3 linked regions of the Homo sapiens genome follow. The protein of the gene in region 1 purifies or fractionates together with the protein of each later gene. This does not show direct contact. Each region holds a gene or a part of one and is shown on either strand. Other genes may lie near its edges.

Region 1 (7,037 bases):
GAGCAAAGTCGTATCTTAAATGGTGGCAGGCAAGAGGGCATGTGCAGAGGAATCGCCCTTTATAAAACCATGAGATCTTGTGAGATTTATTCACTATTATGAGAACAGCATGGGAAAAAAACCCATCCCCATGATTCAATTACCTCCCACAACATGTGGGTATTATGGAAGCTATAATTCAAGATGAGATTTGGGTGGGGACGCAAACCGTATCGTTAGTGTAAAATAATCTTTAAATATACAAAAAAAATTCTAAGACCCCCGAAATCCCAGTAAAGATAAATAAGTAGAAGTCTCTAATTCTAACATAAGTAACCAGCTCTCCAGGTTTATAGGTTTCATCCATCCCACATCCAGTTGCCCAAAATATCTATGTTAACACCACAAAGAGCTATCACAATGCCTCTGATGTCATGCCTGGATTTCTTTCCAATTTTCAACCAGTTTCCACCTCAAGAATGTCACTTATTGCCCAACATGCTAGAGTTTTCTCAGGGTCACCTCAGGTTTCTCCACCAGCAGAGCCCCCAGAGGAGCACACTCATGCTTTCAGGGTCCCCTTGAATCCTCTCTCATTCTCTCTCGAATTATTTTTAAATAATTTTGATAAATACAATTTTGGCGTGGTCTTCTTTGATCATCATGGTGGTCTCACTGCCTAAAGGAACATATACATATAAAGATGTTTACATTGTAATACTATGATATCCATGAAAATATATATTTTTAAAAATTCCACATGAACACAGAACTCAGAACTCAAGCCATATCCATCCACATGCAAATCCTGTGCAAACTTCATGTTCAACTTCATGACCAGAACTACCTTTTTTCCTTAGTTTCACTTTATTTTTACCTTAGGTCAGCTAGAATTTATCTCTTCAGGTCCTGTGGCCAATTTTATATAGATAAATCCAATTTCAGGCTTGATTTGCTCTCTTCAAAGCTCTCTGATGCTTGGAAGTTTTGCTCTATTTGCTCATTGAACCACTCCTTTTCCCTAGACATCTAGCTTAGGTAGAGTTCAGTAAGTTGTTAAACCTGAGAACTCCTGTTTTGTTTTGCTTTTTAATGAAATCAAATCCATTCTGGATATTTTTTACCCAACATAGTTAATAGTTTTGTTACTTGACTTAGGAAAATCTTCACACCCTCATAATGCAACCCCTCAAGAAAAATTTCCTGAAGTGTTCTTATTTAAAACTTCAAAATGCTGAAAGTGCTTGGATAGGGAAATGCTAATCAAAGAGTACAATTCTGGAAATCTAAAGGCACCAACACCAGAAAACAATACCTAATTGTTTTGTTTACTTAAATTCCTGTGGAGAAACCCAAGCCGTATTCTTGTTCGATTAGAATTGCTGAGTTTTATGAGTAGTTAATAATTCATTTGAGCATACTTGTTTGTCCCTTCTTGGGACTGGCACTCGTCTAGGAACTGGGAGTATAGTAGAGAACAGGCCACAGACTTTGTCCTCAGGGATCTTAGAGTTCAGAGGTAGAAACAGACTATGAACGAACGTAACACTGTGAAAAGTAAAAAGGTCGGTGCTTATTAATTTGAGATGTGTGGTCCATTTTACTACATAGGTTATTAAAGTTTTTTAAAAAAAAAACTTTTCTAGTACTAAGAGAAAAAAATTATTCTGCATGTATCTTTGGTGGTCATTTTTAAAATTATTATTTCAACTACTTACATGAGAAAGCAGAGAATGACAATTTGTCTGCCACTTCTGGCTTTCAAATGGCTGTGGCATTGCTGCTATCACCTTTCTCCTATAGGCTTTCAAATAGATAAATATACTCTTGGAGAGCCCCAAAAGTTTGGTATTCCAATCAGTTCTAATTCCAGAAGGCTTCAGGTGTTTCTTTTAGCATATATGTACATGTCAAGACCAAGTGGGTTCAAGGAATAAAAAAGTGTGGTGGGATAAAAGTCTCCTGAAAAAATGTCTACCTTCCCTTTCAAGGCTATACAGTGCTTTGATTTTTTTTGTTTGTTTGTTTTCTTTGCAATAATACAAAAATTGGAGGCTACCAGAAATAGCAACTAGATAAAGCAATTCTCTCTACCTTTATTCACTGTCAAATACAATTCCAAATAGTATTCAAATATCACAGGTTTCGATTTCAACCACCTGCCAAAGGTAGTATGCTTTCATTTTTTCAGAGTCCTGGAACCTGGATTTTGTCGTTCCAGTCTTATTTGGAAAAGGGTGTGTCTTTTCCCCACACACGGAGATTTTTGTCCACAGCGAAGTCCTCATTAATGACAACTGAGATACTGTTTCTATGGAAGTGTTGGTGGTAATACGGGGAGTGCAGGGGACAGTCTGACTTTTGTTAACCTTAGGATGCAGAAAATAGCAGAAAGGGCATCTAGTCATAGCACTCTTGTCTTATTTGAAACACTTATTAGAAAGGAACTTTCTATTTTTTAGTTGAAATATTTTAAAGCAATTAAGTGTGATTTCTAAAAAAAAGAATAGCTTTCAAAAATAAATTTTTAGCATTATATATTCTCCTCCTATGTTCCAGTGAGGCAGCTCATCTTGGGAAAAGAGCACATGGATATTTTGGAAGAATTGATCATAGTCCATTCATCCCACCTGTTTCCATGAGAAGGAAGTGTTATTATAAAGTAGTGTTGGTTAGAGGTTAGGATTTTTCTGAATGTTGTATAATAAAAATGTGTGTTATTTTTCTTTTTGTCCTATAGCGATGCATTGCACCATTCTAAAGAACCCTATGAATGAGTGCTGTATTAATTTTGAGCATTGTACTTCAGAATCAGACAGCAGAACCATCGTTTCTGCCAAGATTCATGTGTCTGAAAAAAAATGGTGTCAGATATTTTATAAATATCTCACCAGGTTCTCCCATTACTTGCTTAAAATACTAATCCTAGAGATTCATAGCTTGAGATATTCATCTTCATAACCAGAAATATTTTTCATATTGGTCAGTTTATATTATTTTAGAAAAAGGCCTCTGAAACTGAGCTTTGTTTTAAGCACATGTTTACTCTGTCATAAAGGCTGTGACAGATGGAAATTTCTTTATCTGTAAAATGGGGGTAGCAATAATATCCAAACCATATGGCTTCTGTGAGGATGAAATGTGATAATATATGAAACAGCAGTTTATGAACTATGTGGTTTTATACACATATTGATTGTAATAATATTTATATTCCAGAAATAAACAGTCAATTGCACGCATTATATGGTTCAAATAACAAACACAAATATTAAAACACAAATATGAAATTACTCTTATTTCAAATATGAAATATGAGCTCGTACAAGCTCCAGGGTTGATAGCAACATGATGACAAATTGGACAACAAAAATTGGGAAATCAAGTAATATGTTTATCGCATCTATTATTGTGTTTGGCAGGGAAAAGTCAAAAATCAACAGCTTCAATCTTTTACTTAACAGATGCAAATAAAACTACAACTCAGGCTCAGGAGTCATGTTTTCCTTTCATATAGTTATTAAGTGTAAATTTATCTTCTTGGAACTTAAAATGATGTGTTTGCAGATTACGTTGGGCAAATTGGCAATACTTAAAATAGAGTGGCACTAAATAATGAATATTCCGTATAACAGAATAACAAATAGCAGGTTATAGGGCCATAAAAAATGTAATAGCTGTTAACGATTACTGCCCCCACCAGCCTGACTGGAGAGCTAATGATGAAACAAAGTTGTCAGGCAAGAAAACAGCACACTGTATATTTTTTTCTATTACATTTGTATACCTAGGGCAGGGGTAGGATGTGGGCTTGGGGAATAGAAAGATGATGAAATCCAGGACATATGAAACAGGGCATGGACAAGCAGAATGGTTTAGGGGGACTTTCATTTTTGCCTTACTCAAGGAGATTATGGGTGGACGTAAGAGGAGATAACAGGTAAAAATGTAGGTACAATGTAATTATTAATCAGAATAAACAAAGGTAAATATTTGGAGAGATGATGTCACTTCTCTTTTTCTGTTTTTTCCCCTCAGATGAGACTCCAACCAACAATTCGCAACTTGGTAAGATAATTAACATATTTTGCAATGTTTTTTACATTTTTGGTGATCAGTTACAAAGCTGTAATCATCTAAGTGTAATGAGCTTGAGTTTTCCAAGTTTGGTCCATTTTAGATAACAGTTCACTGAGGGTTTTCAAACTCATATGTGATCTATTGGTCAATTTTTATAGCATTTGATAGCTTTTTGGTATTTTTGATTTTGGCTGCCCATGGGCAGCCTCTAAACCATACAATCCTTTGGTATTGGGTTGAATTACAGTCAAATAGATTGTAACACAATTCAGTGCCATGCTGCTATTCTATGAGATGCTGATGAAAGATGTTTTGCAGGTAAAATTGGGTCAAGGTGAGATAAATATTATATGGGGCCTTTACAACCGGGTGTGTTTTATTATTTGCAGGTTCTCCAAGTATGCCTCCCTTCCAGCTGAACGCCATCACCAGCGCACTGATATCAGGAATGGTCATTCTGGGAGTTACGAGCTTTTCTCTTCTTCTGTGCTCACTGGCCCTTCTGCACAGGAAGGGACCCACAAGTTTAGTGTTGAATGGCATAAGAAACCCAGTCTTTGACTGACTATAACAGATTCCTGCTCTCTGGAGAAGGCTTCACTGACTAAACTATGTGTGACTGCAGTCAGTGTTCCGTCTGAATTTCATGTCAGTCCACATTCAATATTTGTAGGTTTGATAAATTTCACAGTATAGCTTGTCAGCATAATGATAGTGAAAGAAGTTTATTATATTGCTATTGTCACTTATGTACGTGGCGAGCCGTATTTTTATGCCACCAGTGAATATATTGACAATAAGTGAAAAATATTCAGGACTTAGGGCTTACAGGATCAGTAATATTTCATTTTATTTCAGTTTTCTTTTGATTGTTGGTTAAAAGATAAAAGGTGGGAGTAGACAAAAAATGAAATGTGTTGCATTTCCCCCTTAAGCATTAATGGCATTTAGATTTGCACACGTGGTCCTAGAATAAATGTTGCTTTTTGTTTTAATCCGGATATTCCCAGCTTCAGGATGTGTTTTAATAGGACTGGCCAATTTGGATACCTGAGATTTAACTACTCATTCTATGACCTCCTGTGTTTTTGGCCGATTTTCATGTCTGACCATATTCATTTTAAAAGAAACTCTTGGGACATATCTCTTAACCTGGGGCACCCTTTTGTGTAGAAGATAGTGAAAATAGTTGTTAGCTTCCAAGGCTACTGCTAAGTGGCCCTAGATCATTATTCATTAGAATAGGAATGGCTGCGATCAGTTTTCTTCTTCTGGTTCAGGTGAGAACACCAGCACATGTTAACTCTCCTCCCAGGTAAACAGTTCAGCTGCTGTTGCAGCTGTGCTTCCAGCAGTGAGGTAACTATGCAAAGATTATTTTTAATTCAAGAATCATCACATGTGAAAACAAGCTGTAGTTGTGAAAAGAGTTCCTAGAAGGGTTTTTAACAATTTAGATTCCCTTTTTCCTAAAACAAAAAGGAAACTTAGGTTAAGTGTAGTTTGCAGAACATTGTTGGAATCTACATAAAAAGATATTCCTTCCCCCATATTTTCGATGCCAGGCAATAATCAGGAGAGGGTTTCTTTTTAAGGTATCTTCTTGTAGGTGTCATAATTGCCATGAATAAACAATATTTTCCTCTAACAGTAAACTGCAAGAAGCTTCTGATCCTTTATCAGTTTTGCAAAAAAGCAAGCTTTAAGCAGCCCATGTTCTTACAAAAAAAATCAACATTCTCTTTGTTTAAGCTACCTATGCACTGAACAAACAAAACAATTTAATAGCCAACACCAAAACCCAGCATGTGAAGTTACTAGAATTGCCATGTTAACTATAAGCAATTGCTGTAATCACTAATTTCTATTCAACATTTGTGACCCATTAGTCCGGACTTAATTTACTATACTGCATGCAAATCATCAAGCAATTGCTTCAAAGGAAATGTCTACAATGTGAGTTAATAATTAAATCAATCCTCAAGTTGAAAAACACTTTTTCTCCAATTTGCCTGAATATTTCAGGAGGAAGTGTTTATATTATAATAATTAGCTATATAATTGCATCAACTTTTTATTTCAAGGTATAGTTGCCAAGTAAAGTGGGATCTGGAAAGTCTCTGGATAATTTCTTTACAAAAAAAGTTTAAATCACATAAAAAGCCAATCTACTCTTCCCTGTGTTACTTTAAAATAACTTTGAAGTGACTATTCTGAGCTTTATCTGTGTTAACATGATTAACTGACCATACTACTAATGTGACCCTGTATATACATGGATAGTATTGAAATATGCTGGTAAATCTATTTCAGATACTTTAAGTGAATTGCCATTGATTCTACGATTAAGTTCTGTGAATAGGACATTATATCATTTAAGCTGTTTTGTCAATTTGATTTTTATGCTTTTGGAACGGCTGCTGTTTCAGCTGTTGGCCTTTTCAATTCTATACTCCATTTTATAGAATTGAATAATGGACACATGTCACTTGGGAAGCAACGTAAGTATCACATTATTTTTTGCCACCCTTTCATCATAAATGGAAGAATCAGAGTTATAATGAGATAAACCAGGTCTGTTTTTTACAACTTTGTTCTTATAAATCTGCAGTTATATGGAGTATTTAGTTATACTGAATTTTACAGTTATTATAGTGTGAAAAACCTTACAAAATATGTGCAAATGTTTCTTCAGTTTTAATACCTCAAACTGTTTTTTGCACTTCAGGGGTAAGGTCTGATGACATGTAAAAGATGATCGTTTAATAAAATAATTGTTTAAAATGTTTACCTGTTTTGTTTTTTTTTTAATTTTCTCCTTCCTGCTCTCAACATCCTATTCTTACTTTCACAAATACAGAGGGTCTCCAACTTATGATGGTTACATTTACAATTTTTGACTTTAAGATGGGTTTATCAGGCCATTAAATGCATTGTTGACCTGTGATTTTTTTTATTTATGATAAGTTTTTTGAGAC
Region 2 (7,037 bases), on another chromosome or scaffold:
GAGGACAAAAGAGAGGACTTTGCTTTCTCTCCCCACTCACACCCTGCACCAGGACAGGCCCAACATGTGACACACACTCGATCGTTCTCTCATGGAGAGGGAATGAATGAGAGAATGAATGATGCAAAACCTCTTTAGAGACTAGATCCTGGATGGCCAGGCAGGTGCTGTCTGATGGGCTTACTGCCTGTTCCACACACATCTGTGTCCTCATGATGGCACCATTGTGATAAGATGGGGTCCTTCAGGTGGGGAGACGCATGAGCCACTGGCGTCTCACTTAGACTCTGTCCAATTCGCAAAAACCTAATCCAATTCTACTTGTGTCTCCCGAGGTCAAGAGAAAATGAAGAAAGCATTGCGCATACCTGTTTTGGGCTCCTCCCAATTTTGCCTAACTCTGCATAGGAATTAGGGGCAGGAAGCTTTCTAAATTTACTAACATAACACACATCGCTTCTCCTAATTTGGCATTGTTCCTCCCTTTATGGAATTGACACACCTAAGACTTCCTCTCTGACCGGTTCTGTCCTCTTAACAGGACTCACGTGCCTCCCTCTACCTGGGAGTTGCTAATTTCAAGCGAACTTCAGGATCTTCCTTTGAGCATAATGTGATCCTGCTGGAATTCACAGGACGCCTAAACCTTATTTTGTTATCAAGAGAAATACTCCTTCCACCAATTGATTTTAGATCTGTGGACAATTAATAGCAATTTCTACTTATGGAAAAAAATTCATGTTTCCTCCAATTTTGTTTTTGACTATAGTCAAAACATAATATCTAAACTCCTGACAAATTTTAAAATGCAAATTAGAGTTACACATTGACCATCAAAAATCCCAAATCTGAAATGCTCCAAAATTCCACATTTTTTGGCCACTAACGTGATTCTCAAAAGAAATGCTCACTGGAGCATTTTGGATTTGGGATTTTCAGATTTGAGATGCTAAACCAGTAAGTATACTGCAAATGTTCAAAAATTTATAAAAGTTAGAAATTCAAAACACTTTTGGCCCTAAGCCTTATGCATAAGAAATACTCACTGTATATGAGCTATAGGCACAAAGCTGTACAGCAGATCTCTAGAACCTCCTCATCCTGTGTAACTGAAACTGCAGACCCATGAACAACTCTCCATTCCCCCCACTCCCAGCCCATAGCAACCACCATTCTACTACGTGATTCCATGAGTGTGACTACCCTAGGAACCTCATGTAAGTGGAATCCTACAGTATCTGTCCTGTCAGTGGCTTATTTCACTCTGTATAATGTCCAGTAGGAGAAAATATTTGCAAAACTTCTTCCCAAATTTCTCTCTCATAACTGTCAAACACCCACGGTCCATGAGGGCCAAATTTCCAGCACTTCAGGCTCCCCCTCCCCACCCGTCAGTTTGCATTTGCAAATGTCCACATGTATTTATGGGAGGATCCACAGCTCCTCATCTGCCCCCCGCAGGGAAAGAAGGGACATTAAAAACCAAGGAAAGGAAACAAGGTTCTGCTCCAAAGCCACCTGTTCTTGCCTGTCCCCTTCACTCCTTCTAGATCATTCCTTGGACTCTGCTCTATCTTTAGAGGTCACTGACTCAAGTAAGTCACGATGAAACACCTGGGAAAAACTGCCCCACCTTGTGGCTCCACTGCCTGACGACGGAACCGACCTCCAGGCTTGCCCCGGCCTCCCCTGTGTTATTTCTGTTGAAACACCCAGTCAGGAATTAAGGATAGTGGCATGTCCCATCATCTCCCATCTCTAGAATGTTCTTGGAAACAGAACCCTCAAAAACACACCTCGAAGGGCAAAGTAGGACTGTGAAGCTGGAAGGGACCCAGCACCTACATGTTCCAGGTGAGGACCCCTAGGTAGGCCAGGCAGGCAGCCGGTCAGGGAGGGACCAGAAGAGGCACCAGGATCTGTAACTCCCAGTCCTGGGTCTGTCCACAACCCAGCGCTGCTGCCCAATTCACATTTGAGAAAGTCTGTGTTTCTCCCACACAGAGAAGGCGGCCTCATGGTCTCTGAGCCCCGATCATTGTGCATCTGTCTTGTGACACACACACCCACCGTGGGCTTTTAAGGACTCGAGTAGGCTGAGAGGTGGGAGATGCCAACTCTAATTGAAATTTGCCTGTGGAGGAATCAAAGGTGCCACACAGGGCAATCTTCTCTCTGTTTTCTGCACAGCGGAGACTCCCAAGCCCTCCATCTCCAGCAACAACTCCAACCCCGTGGAGGACAAGGATGCTGTGGCCTTCACCTGTGAACCTGAGACTCAGAACACAACCTACCTGTGGTGGGTAAATGGTCAGAGTCTCCCGGTCAGTCCCAGGCTGCAGCTGTCCAATGGCAACAGGACCCTCACTCTACTCAGTGTCACAAGGAATGACGTAGGACCCTATGAATGTGAAATACAGAACCCAGCGAGTGCAAACTTCAGTGACCCAGTCACCCTGAATGTCCTCTGTGAGTATCTTCTGTTCCTCTGTGGCCCAGGCCACCAGCCCAAATCCACGCAGCCAGAGGCCAGGCCTCTCAGTCCCTCTCAGCTCCAAAAATGCAGATTCCCCACCCACCCCTAGAAACCCAGCTCGTCATGACTTTCTGCCCCAGGCAAACATGGGTAGGCCTAGCCTTGACCAAGAATAAGAGGGGAGGGGGTGCTCCTGTCATGGGAGACTTGGAGTCCACATCTTCTGATGGGAGAAACAGGTAAATGTCTCGGACTCTGTCTCAGTAGAAACAGCGGGGGTTTGGTTGGGGTTGGTTGGGACTTGGCTCAGGTTTGTGACTTGGCTCAGAGGGACACTGTGGCTCTTCCACAGACCAGGAGCTTCCCCTTCCCTCTGATGACATCACCTGTGACTTTATTCTTTTGCTCTAGATGGCCCAGATGCCCCCACCATTTCCCCTTCAGACACCTATTACCATGCAGGGGTAAATCTCAACCTCTCCTGCCATGCGGCCTCTAATCCACCCTCACAGTATTCTTGGTCTGTCAATGGCACATTCCAGCAATACACACAAAAGCTCTTTATCCCCAACATCACTACAAAGAACAGCGGATCCTATGCCTGCCACACCACTAACTCAGCCACTGGCCGCAACAGGACCACAGTCAGGATGATCACAGTCTCTGGTAAGTGGATCCCTGGAGCACTGGCAGTATGTTTTCTGGTAGAGTCTATCTGGCTTTCAGAGATGAGCCAGAAAAAAAGTTTTATTCCCAGCCTGTGTCCAACAGCACAAGCAAATCCCCAACTTTTCTCCTAAACCCTCCCAGTTTATCTCTATAGACTCTCTTCTGCCTGTTTTTCTGATTTCTCTTGGCTGACCTCGGGGCTGACCTGAGAAACGTGGAGAGGGGCCTTCGTCAGCCCCAGAGCCCTATGTCATGGAAAGGACTTCACCAAGGGGGAAGAAGGAGGGTCCTCAAGGTCAAGTTGCTTTTCTTTGTCACCAACACATGGCACCCCTGTTTCTGTTACCCCTTTGTTTTCTTTTACCTATGCCATTAGCTGCAAGAAACATCCAAGGCTTTGAAACAAGCCCACAACGTTCCCCAAATGGGAGGAGGAGCCCCTTGGATGACGGAGGAGCAGCTCAGACTGCTCCCATCTCTGCTCCCAGCTCCCTGGTGACAGGCCCTGCCCTGACTCCACCTGGGGTGGGACCCAGGTGTATGGAAAAGGTGCTCAGGTGGCCTATCCCAAATCTGGCTAAATCAAGTTGCCAGTTGAAGCCAAGCCTCCCCCCAGTCAGGCTGCACAAAAATGGGAAGACAGGGAGCCTCCGGGAAGACTCCTGAGCAGTGTCCTAGCTCTGAAGTCACGGGCTGCATGAGGCTGTGGATACAACACAGAGGACAGTGAGTGATGCACACTTGGAGACACAGGGAGATTCAGCCACAGGGTCTCTGCATGAGAGGGAAGGGGTAGTGCCAGTTGCCCAGGCTGGAGTGCAATGGCACTATCTCGGCTCACCCTCCGCCTCCTGGGTTCAAGCAATTCTCCTGCCTCAGCCTCCCAAGTAGCTGGATTACAGGCATGTGCCAACACGCCCAGCTAATTTTGTATTTTTAGTAGAGATGGGGTTTCTCCATGTTGATCAGGCTGGTCTCGAACTCCCGAACTCAGGTGATCCACCCGCCTTGGCTTCTCAAAGTGCTGGGATTACAGGCATGAGCCACCACTCCCAGCCACCATTAACTATTTCTATGCGTGCAATTTAGTGTTATGTAACCATCACCACCATCCATTTCCAGAACTTTTTCATCTTACCATATTAAATAAACTTCTCTGCCCAATAAAGAGTAACTCTCACTCCTTCTCCCTCTAACCCCTGGCAACCTCCATTCTACTTTCTGTCTCTATGTAATTGATTATTCTAACAACCTTATATAAATGGAATTATATAATAGGTGGCCTTTTGTGTCTGGCTTGTTTCACTTAACATAATGTTTTTAAGGTTCATCCATTTTGCACCATGTATCAGAATTTTCTTCCTTGTTAAGATTGAAGAACATTCCATTGTATGGATACACCTCACTTTTCTATCCACTTATCTTTCAATGGACTTTGCAGTTGTTTCCACCTTTTGGCTATTGTGTGACTAATGCTGCTGTGAACATCAGTGTACAAATATCTGTTCAAATCCCTTCCAATTCTCTTGCATATATGTCCAGAAGTGGAATTGCTGGATCCAATGGTAATTCTTTGTTTAATTGTTTGAGAAACAGCCATACTGTTTTCCACAGTGGCTATAACATTTCACACTTCCATCAGCAATGCACTAGAGCTCCAATTTTTCCACTTCCTTAAAAACACTTGTTGTTTGTGTGTGTGTGGTTTTTTTTTAATCAAAGCCATCCTAATGTGTTTGAGGTATTCTATCATTGGGGTTCTGATTTGCATATCTCTAAGTATCAGTGATGTTGAGCATCTTTGCATGTGCTCATTGGCCATTTGTATATCTTCCTTGGAGAAATCTCTATTTCAGTCTTTTGTCCTTTTTTAGTTGGGTTTTTGGATTTTTGCTGTTGTGGATTTGTAGTAGTTCTTCATATACTCTGAAAATTGATCCCTTATCATACATGATTTACAAATATTTTTCCCACTTCAAGGTTGCCTTTTCACTTCCTCGACAATGTTCTTTGATATATAAAAGTTATTGATTTTCATGAAGTCCAACTTACCCATTTTTTCTTTTGTTGCCTATGCTTTTGTTGTTATAACCAAGAAACCACTGTGAAATCCAATGTCATGGAGTTTTTTTCCCTGTGTTTTCTTCTGAGAGTTTTATAGTTTTTACTCTTACATTTGGTCTTTGATCTACTGTGGGTTAGTTTTTTGTATATGGTGTCAGGTAAAGGTTCAGCTCATCTTTCTGCATGGATTTCCAGCTTTCCCAAAATCATTTGCTGAAAAGACTGCACTTTCCCCATTGAGTGGTATTGGCATCCTTATCAAATATCATTTGGCCATATATGCAAGCATTCCTTTCTGGGCTTTCTGTTCTATTCCGCTGGTTTCTGTCTTCCTTTACGCAAGTACTGCATTGTATTGATTACTGTGGCTTTGTAGTAAATGCTGAAATCAGGATTCAGCATTTTTTTTTCAAGGTTCCTTTTTTCATGATTGGTTGGCTATTTTGAGTCCTGAAATTCCATATGAACTTTAGGATAGATTTTTCTATTTCTGCAAAAAAATGTCATTGGAATTCTGATAGAAATTGTGTTGAATCCATAGCTCACTTTGGGTGGTATTATCCTCCTAACAATACCGTGTCTTCCAATCCATGAAAACAAAATGTCTTCCCATTTTTTGAGGTCGTATTTAATTTCCTTCAGCAATGTTTTCTAGTTTTCAGAATACAATCCTTTCACCTCCTTGGTTAAACTTATGCCTAAGTATTTTATTCTTTTTGATGTTAATGTGAATTAAAATTTTTTTCTTAATTTCCTTTTTAGATTGTTCATTGTTAGTGTATAGAAATGCAACTGATGTTTGCATGCTGATTTTGTATCCTGCAACATTACTGAATTTATTAATAAATTCTAACAGGTTTTTTTCATCCTTAGAGTTTTCTACAAAGAAGTTCAAGTTGTCTGTGAACAGACAGATAATTTTACTTCTTCTTTCCAATCTGAAAGTCTTCTTTTTTTCTTGCCTAATTTCTCTGGCTAGGACTTGTAATACTATGTTAAATAGACGTGGCAAAAGCAGGCATCCTTGTCTTGTTCCTGATCATAGGGGGAAAGCTTTCAGTCTTTCTCTATTGAGTATGATGTTAGCCTTGGGCTTTTCACATACTGCCTTTATTATATTGAGATAGTTTCCTTCCATTCATACTTAGCATGTTTTTATTAAGAAAGAATGTTGAATTTTGTCAAATGAAATTTTTATTCAATCTTCCTACTAATTATAGGTCTATTCAGATTTTTTGTGTGTGTTTCTTGGAATTTGTCCATTTCATCTAGGCTATCCAATTTATTGGCATACAATTATTCATAGTACTTTTGTAAACAATATTTCTCTAGAATTGATATATAATATCTCCATTTTCTTTTCTTTCTTTCGTTTTTTTTTTGTTTGTTTTTTTTTTTTTTTTGAGAGAGAGAGAAAGACGAGTCTCACTCCTTAGGTCAGCCCAGGCTGGAGTGCAGAGGTGCGATCAAAACTCACTGCAGCCTCAACCTCCTGGGCTCAAGCAATCCTCCCAACTCAGCTTCCCAGGTAGCTGAAACTACAGGTGCATACCATCATGCCCAGCTGAATTTTTGTTTTAATTTTGTAGAGACAGGGTCTCCCTATGTTGCCCCAGCTGGTTTCAAACTCCAGGCCTCAAGCAATCCTCCCAATTTGCCTTCCCAAAGTGCTGGGATTGAAGGTGTAAGCCACCATGCTGGGAGTCCATTTTCATTTCTGATTTTAGTAATTTCCATCTTGTCTCTTTTTTTCTTAGTCAGTCTAGTTAATGGTTGGCAATTTTGTTGATCTTATTTTGAAGAACCAACTTTTGGTTTCATTGATTTC
Region 3 (7,030 bases), on another chromosome or scaffold:
TAAACAAATACAAATAATAAAATTCAGTGTCAATGAGATACTGAATCTAAAAGATAAAAGTACATCCATATTTTTATAATGATTTTTCAATTGTTATGGAAAGAAATATGAGACTATGTAAACAGAAAAAATAAAATTTCTTTTAATTAAAAAACCCACATTAAAAAATATATCCCAAGAAAATATTCCCATCACTTATTACTCCAAAGAGTAATTTGTTCAAGGAGGTTAAAGCAGTGTTACTTATAATAGTTAAAGAATCAGAAAATGTACTTTCCTAAAATTTAGGGTTAAGAAAACTATTCTAGGCCAAACACAGTGGCTCACACATGTAATCCCAGCACACTGTGAGAGGGATGGGTGATGTGGGAAGATCACTTGAGCCTAGGCATTTAAGACCAGCCTGGGCAACCTAGGGAGATCCCCTCTCTACAAGTAATAAATAATTAGCTGGGTGTGGTGGCGTGTGCCTGCCTGTAGTCCAGCTTCTGGGAGGCTGAGGCAGGAGACTCACTTGAGCTCAGGAGGTTGAGGCTGCAGTGAGCCTTGACCATGCCACTGCACTCTAGCCTGGATTACAGATTCAGACCCTGAAAAAAAAGAGAAAGGAAGGAAGGAAGGAAGGAAGGAAGGGAGGGAGGGAGGGAGGGAGGGAGGGAGGGAGGGAGGGAAGGAAGGAAGGAAGGAAGGAAGGAAGGAAGGAAGGAAGGAAGGAAGGAAGGAAGGAAGGAAGGAAAAACTAGTCTATACCAATATATAAACTATATAGCCATTAAGAATTATAAGACTTTAGAACATGTTGATCTCTGGAAATATGTTTATGAAATAATGTTAATTATAAATATGTGTTTTGTACAGATGTACATTCAAGCATTTTAATAGATTTATAAATCCTTGTGTATCATTTTGTGTTCAAACACAGCGTATTTCTTTTTTTAATCATACTTAAACAATTTATTTTTTATTTCAATAGTTTCTGAGGAACAGGTGGCTTTTTGTGACATGAACAAATTCTTTTGCAGTAATTTCTGAGATTTTGGTGTACCCATCACCAGAGCAGTGTACACTGTACTCAATACGTAGTATTTTACCCCTCACCCCACTTCCCCCTGGAGCCCCCAGACTCCACTATATCATTCTGATGCCTTTGTGTCCTCATAGCTTAGCTCCAGCTTATGAATGAGAACATATGTTTGGTTTTCCACTCTGAGTTATTTCACTTAGAATAATCATCTCTAATTCCATCCAGGTTGCTGAGAATGCCATTATTTTGTTCCTTTTTATGGCTGAGTAGTATTCTGTGGTATATATATACTATATTTTCTTTATCCACTCGTTGGTTGATGGACATTTAGGCTGGTTCCATATTTTTTGCAATTGTGAATTGCGCTGGTATAAACATGTGCAAACACAGTCTACTTCAGATTATATTTACATGTATAAATCTATTGATGTATATTAATGTACATTGACAAATAAATGTAAGGTGATGTTAACAGAATTTCATGTTTATTGAATTCTTTGGTTTTAAAACAAAGCAGCATTTCACAAAAATTATTCTATTTTATTATAAGCACTGCTTACAAACAAATTTGTTCAAAACAAATTTGGGGGTTTGGGGAATAGGTTAGGTAAAATGTTTTTACCATAGGAATTTTCAGAGCCTTTAATTTATTAACATACATTGTGGATCTCTAAAATGAAGAGATTTCTCTTATTGTTTATCTCAAAATCTACTATTTACATCACGACTTACATTTATTTTGTGTAAATAAATCTGCATAAATCTTATTTGCACTTGTTACTAATTTATCGTTTTCACCAAACTGTAACTTCTATCAGGACAGGTAAATATATCTGTCTTCTTCACCACTGTTCCTAGAGTGCCAGCCAGGGCATATAGAAGTGGCTCAATATTTTTGAAGTGAATGACTTGCTAGAGCAGCATTTAGGCAAACTAGTGCCTAAAGTCACACATTTTGGGAACTACCACTCTAAAGTTATTTAATTGTATAATAACTTCAAAGGAAAAAAATGTGTTAATGCCCCTAGGCCACTAGAGATCCATTTAATAATTATTGCTTCGCTTCAGTTGAGTCACTTACTACTTTAGGGAACAGAAGAGATTTCTCAGAGAGCACCTCATGACCTGGAAAAGTCTTGCAAAATCATTTTCATACTCTGCATCTCCAGCTGAAAAACAATGATAAAATTAGTTACCATGGAAGTTAAAGGAATCATGCTTTGCATTAACACCAACAGTCTTCTGGAACACATTTGGTAACATTAGATTTCCCATCAAAGATATTTGTTTATTTTAATAGTTCAAGCATGAAAAAGAGATATCCCTTTTGGAAGCTGCAAATTGTTGACTCACTGATTCTCATTTAGGAAAAGGGATTTCACATTACTTTATCTATTTTCTCAATAGTCAAAGCCCATGTTAAGAGAGCTTTTAAACATATTTAAAATATATGGCTTACCTACATGTTTTACATGATAATTTATGGTTATAGAAGTTAGAAAGTGCAATTTCTTTTAATATCCCCGTGGGGAAGTTATATAATTCTATAGTTTTTTAAAATATATGGAAAAGCAATATACTTTCCGTTAACTGCTAAGATTCATGAATTTTCTCCACAAGTTCTCCAGAGGAACTACTAGAAAAAACTCCACGAATCTCATTATTTGACAGTTTTGTTGAAGTGAAATTATTAAAATTGATATTAGATTTAATGACTTGTTTCCAGTAACCAAAATGGAAAGTATTCTACCAGCTGTCGATGGTTCCACACCCTGACACATCGTTAAAACCTTAGCTTCTGCCTAAACTTTAAACCTTAATAATATTTGGCGGTAGGGGAGGGGTTACATTTCAAGTCAAACAAAGGATGTATTTCCAAAGCAGCATTTACAAAGGTTAATCTGTGTATGGACTACAAAGGGGAAAGTGCAGTGCCCCAGTGATCGATCTAAGACCCCCCTCTCGTTGTTGTTGTTGTTGGGTTTTTTTGGTCTGGTTAATAAACCACCTAGAGGGATAATTTTTAAACTTAATTTGTTGAAATGGTACTTTACTAATGTATGAAAAAAATTTCCCCAAATTTGAGAATTTTTGGTAAGTTGATTTTATATTTGGGAATAAAGATCTCTTGCTTCTTCTACTGACACCTTCTACACAAAAGATAAAAGGTACTTTTACTTGGTAATCCGCAGGGAGAAAATTTACAGAAACCCAGAGCCAAAGGTGCTCTCAGGGGATCCCCTGAAACATTCAAAGCCATTGCGGCCCCAGAAGGTAAATGGCTTTCGCAGGAACACAGGTCTCCTGACTCACGGCCTAACCTTCCTTTCCCCCACACCAAAGCTCGCGCGGCACCAGCTAGAGTGAAGGTCAAAGTCAACAGAATAATCTCTGCAGTCCAGGGTCTGTGAGGGTCCTCCTATCCGAGGGAGTTTTCATGAAAGGGCATTTCCGAACATTTTATTCCAAGGACACAGTCTAGTCAAAAGACGTTTGGGATAGGGTAAACATGAGGCAAAAGAACACTTACAAAAGAAAAAAGCGCAGTTTCTTGGAGGCTTGTCAGAAGCTAAGACTGGGGAGATGAGAACCAGGGCCCTTGGCGAGAGTTGGGGTGGGAATCGCGTAAGAAAAGCAATTTCTAGAGCGGAAAGGTGACCCCACATTACAAAAAGAAATGGAGTAGAAAAATAGGCTTGACTATTCTAAAGCTGCTTCAGAAAGAATCTCCGGAAGACCACGGAGGAACCCCGCAGGGGAGCCAGGCGGATACTCAGCCGCTCGCGGTAGAAGGGCGCGCAAAGCTGCGGAGCCGCGTGTGTGGAGCTCCCCAGTGCACTCACTGCTGGCTCCCCCTCGGTGCTCTGGGCCCTTCCCAGCTCCCTCCACACAGCCCGGCTCCCTTCACACACCCCCGCCCCCTCCGAGCTCCCCGACTCCTCCCCGCGCTCCACGGCTCTTCCCGACTCCAGTCAGCGTTCCTCGGGCCCTCGGCGCCACGAGCTGTCCGGGCACGCAGCCCCTAGCGGCGCGTCGCTGCCAAGCCGGCCTCCGCGCGCCTCCCTCCTTCCTTCTCCCCTGGCTGTTCGCGATCCAGCTTGGGTAGGCGGGGAAGCAGCTGGAGTGCGACCGCCGCGGCAGCCACCCTGCAACCGCCAGTCGGAGGTGCAGTCCGTAGGCCCTGGCCCCCGGGTGGGCCCTTGGGGAGTCGGCGCCGCTCCCGGGGAGCTGCAAGGCTCGCCCCTGCCCGGCGTGGAGGGCGCGGGGGGCGCGGAGGTGAGCGGGTCGGGGAGGAGCGCGAAAGAAGGTAGCGGCGGCGGAGTTGAGGGTCAAGATGCAGTCTGCGCCACGCGCTGCATCCATCCTCCCCGATTCTGCGCCCTCACCGGGCGTCCGCCCTGAGCTGCGGGGTCCCTCATCTCCTGGCACCTTAAGGTGGAAAGTGAGAAGGGTGGAGAAGGGTGTCTGTTCCACTGATTCCCCCTCCTCCTCCTCTTGGTTCCTAGAGCTAAGGGCAAGTCCTGAGGTTGGGCCCAGGAGAAAGAAGGCAAGGAGACATTGTCCCAGGTAGGATGTGTCCCAGCAGGAAAGGACAGGCAGGTTACTTTCGCCCCCTTGATAGTCTCCCTGCTACTTTGGGTTGATGCAGGGCATTTCATGGAAGATCATGCAGTGCTGCTTTGCGAACAGGTATTTCTAGCAGTCATTTGGTTTATTTCCCAGTAATGTAATCGTGGTGTTTAGGCCATTTCTGTTAGAAAGTAATTGGCCTCTTCTTTGACTGTCCTAAATTATCTTTGAACCCTGTGTTCAGCCTCAGCCAAAACTTGTTGAAAATTATGCCCTAAAAATCTTGCTCTTAAAATAGAGCAGAGAGATAAAGAGCATTTTTGTTGGAAGATTTCCATTTATTATCTCTCCCACCCCGTGGAGAAGGATTGGTGTCAGTTTTTACTCCTCGGGCAGTTAGTTTTTTAGATGGAAAGACAGTCCAGGCCATAGTTAATTATCGCTCATCAGTATAGGAGAAAAAGAATTCAGACTCCTGCCCCACCCCCACCCCCACCCCCAACCTCCTGACTTAGATTCTGGTCCTTTTAACAGCCCCGCTGCTTGGAACCCTTTTTGTTTTCTAAACCACCTCCCCATCCTTCCTTTTCTCCACTTTATTATTTCTTCATTTTATTGATCTGTTTATTTTTTCTTTCTTTAACCCTATAATTTTTTTACTCCGATTCTCTCTTGGTTGCTTCAAAGCTTAGAGGCTATTTAATGGAAAAGCAAAACAAAACAAAACAAAACACCCGTCCTAAATAATTTGCAGGATGTTTAGAAACATAAAGAGTAACTATGTGTGCTGCCATTGGGATGGCTGCACTCTCTGCCTCTTAGCTAGTCACTCTGTCAGGGTATGGGGAAATGAGACAATATTGAGAATGACAACTTGAGCAAATTGTGCAGTAAGGAAATGAAAAGCTTTATCCAAGTCACTTTTTATTGTACTGGTGCTATGGAAAATGTGGTGAATGAACATAGTTGTATTTTAGTACTGAAAAAACAGGACAGGTGAAGACAAATTTTTAAAGAAAGGATTGTAAATGAGTTAGAAAAGTGAGAAAGAAGATACACCAAAAATGTGAAAGAGTAAGACTGCAGGCGTGATAAAGGACATAGGACATCAGGAGATGTATTTATCCCTGCTGGGCCAGAAACCAGGACATTGAGGTAACTGAGACATTAACATAACAATAACATTGATAAATCACCTACCCCTTAAGGGCCCACATGTGTTTTCAGCAAAAAGAGAAATCTGATCTAGAGAATTATTACATGTCTTTTTGTCCTGAATTTTTTTGATGTATTCCATAACAAAGAATTTTTATTGCATCCTTAGTTACACTGCCAGCCAATGTGGAGGCAGTGATCACGGACAAGACAAACATGGTTCTTCCCTCGTGCAGTTTATTGTCCAATGGGGGAAATAGTAAACAGTAAAGAAACAATTATATAAAATATTACAAAATAAATTTAACAAGGGCTGAGTGAATTATTCTGCTATAGAGATGGAACAGTATATGGAAAGCTCCCAAGGTACATAAAGTGGTTGTTGTTTTCTCTTTCTAGAAGAGAATGCTGTGGGTGGACAATATACAGATAAGGTTAGAGAGGGGAAGCGGGGACTAACTCATTCAGGACCTTTTACGTGATAGTCAGGAAGATGGCTGTAGTTCTAAGTACAAGGAGCACCGATTTTAAGGAGAGACATTTTATGACGATTTACATTTTAAGATGATTTTAGCTGCTGTGGAGATGTTTGGAAAGGGTCAAAAGAGAAAGTAGGCTGACCCATTAGGAAATGTTTGCAGAGTTCAGGTGAGATGATAGACACCTGGACTAGCCTGGTATTGGTGGAGAGGGATTTATGAAATATGTTGGAGAACAGGAATTGGTGCAGGATTTTATGTCAAAAGTGAGGGTCAGCAAGGACTTAAGAATGACTCCCAATTTTCTGATTGGAGCAACTGGTGGATAATGGTGGCATTTACACATTTCCAGGCGAATGGGACCAGCTCTGGGTGGAAAAAGTTCAGGTTTGAACCTGTGAAGTTTGAGATGTCACAGAAAGAGGTCATAACCATATCCCCTTGGGAAGCAAAAAGGGAGGCTCTCCAGGACATAAGTGGATAGACTGGTCTTTGATAGGTAAAATTGGTGATTGTTAATTTAAGGTGAAACTAATGAGCTCAGTTTTCTGGTTTTTCTCCAGCAACCTTCACCAACGTGGATACAGATACAGAGAAAATGGATAGCTGGGTCCAGGACTAGAGTTTTGCCAAGCAGATATGATGGAGAGTAAGAGAGCTGAGGATCTTTTTAAGGGAGTGACTACAAATCTAGCCTCGGTTTAAAGAGAAACCAGAGCAGGCTGAAGGAGAGTGCAGGATATTAAGCAATTAGAGAGGTAGAGGTCAACGGATCAGATTTCTTTTGCTGTTTAGAATTATC

Evidence for each region. Proteins that work in one complex are often made in the same cells at the same time.
Region 2: the proteins of ZPLD1 (region 1) and CEACAM8 purify together in Homo sapiens (affinity purification with mass spectrometry; 2 studies listed by BioGRID and IntAct, with this or other methods). This does not show direct contact.
Region 3: the proteins of ZPLD1 (region 1) and STEAP2 purify together in Homo sapiens (affinity purification with mass spectrometry; 2 studies listed by BioGRID and IntAct, with this or other methods). This does not show direct contact.

What each region holds. Positions count from the first base shown.
Region 1 is NC_000003.12:102,472,995-102,480,031, forward strand, and holds the end of ZPLD1 (zona pellucida-like domain-containing protein 1 isoform 2 precursor), read left to right. Parts: intron 1-4,017; coding exon 4,018-4,047; intron 4,048-4,448; coding exon 4,449-4,624; 3' UTR 4,625-6,847; downstream 6,848-7,037. UniProt on the Homo sapiens protein: Glycoprotein which is a component of the gelatinous extracellular matrix in the cupulae of the vestibular organ.
Region 2 is NC_000019.10:42,584,889-42,591,925, reverse strand, and holds part of CEACAM8 (cell adhesion molecule CEACAM8 precursor), read left to right. Parts: intron 1-2,190; coding exon 2,191-2,469; intron 2,470-2,887; coding exon 2,888-3,142; intron 3,143-3,521; coding exon of another isoform or gene 3,522-3,811; exon of another isoform or gene 3,812-4,010; intron 4,011-7,037. UniProt on the Homo sapiens protein: Cell surface glycoprotein that plays a role in cell adhesion in a calcium-independent manner. Mediates heterophilic cell adhesion with other carcinoembryonic antigen-related cell adhesion molecules, such as CEACAM6.
Region 3 is NC_000007.14:90,207,746-90,214,775, forward strand, and holds the start of STEAP2 (metalloreductase STEAP2), read left to right. Parts: upstream 1-3,994; 5' UTR 3,995-4,300; intron 4,301-4,530; exon of another isoform or gene 4,531-4,591; intron 4,592-4,611; exon of another isoform or gene 4,612-4,714; intron 4,715-6,074; exon of another isoform or gene 6,075-6,115; intron 6,116-7,030. UniProt on the Homo sapiens protein: Integral membrane protein that functions as a NADPH-dependent ferric-chelate reductase, using NADPH from one side of the membrane to reduce a Fe(3+) chelate that is bound on the other side of the membrane.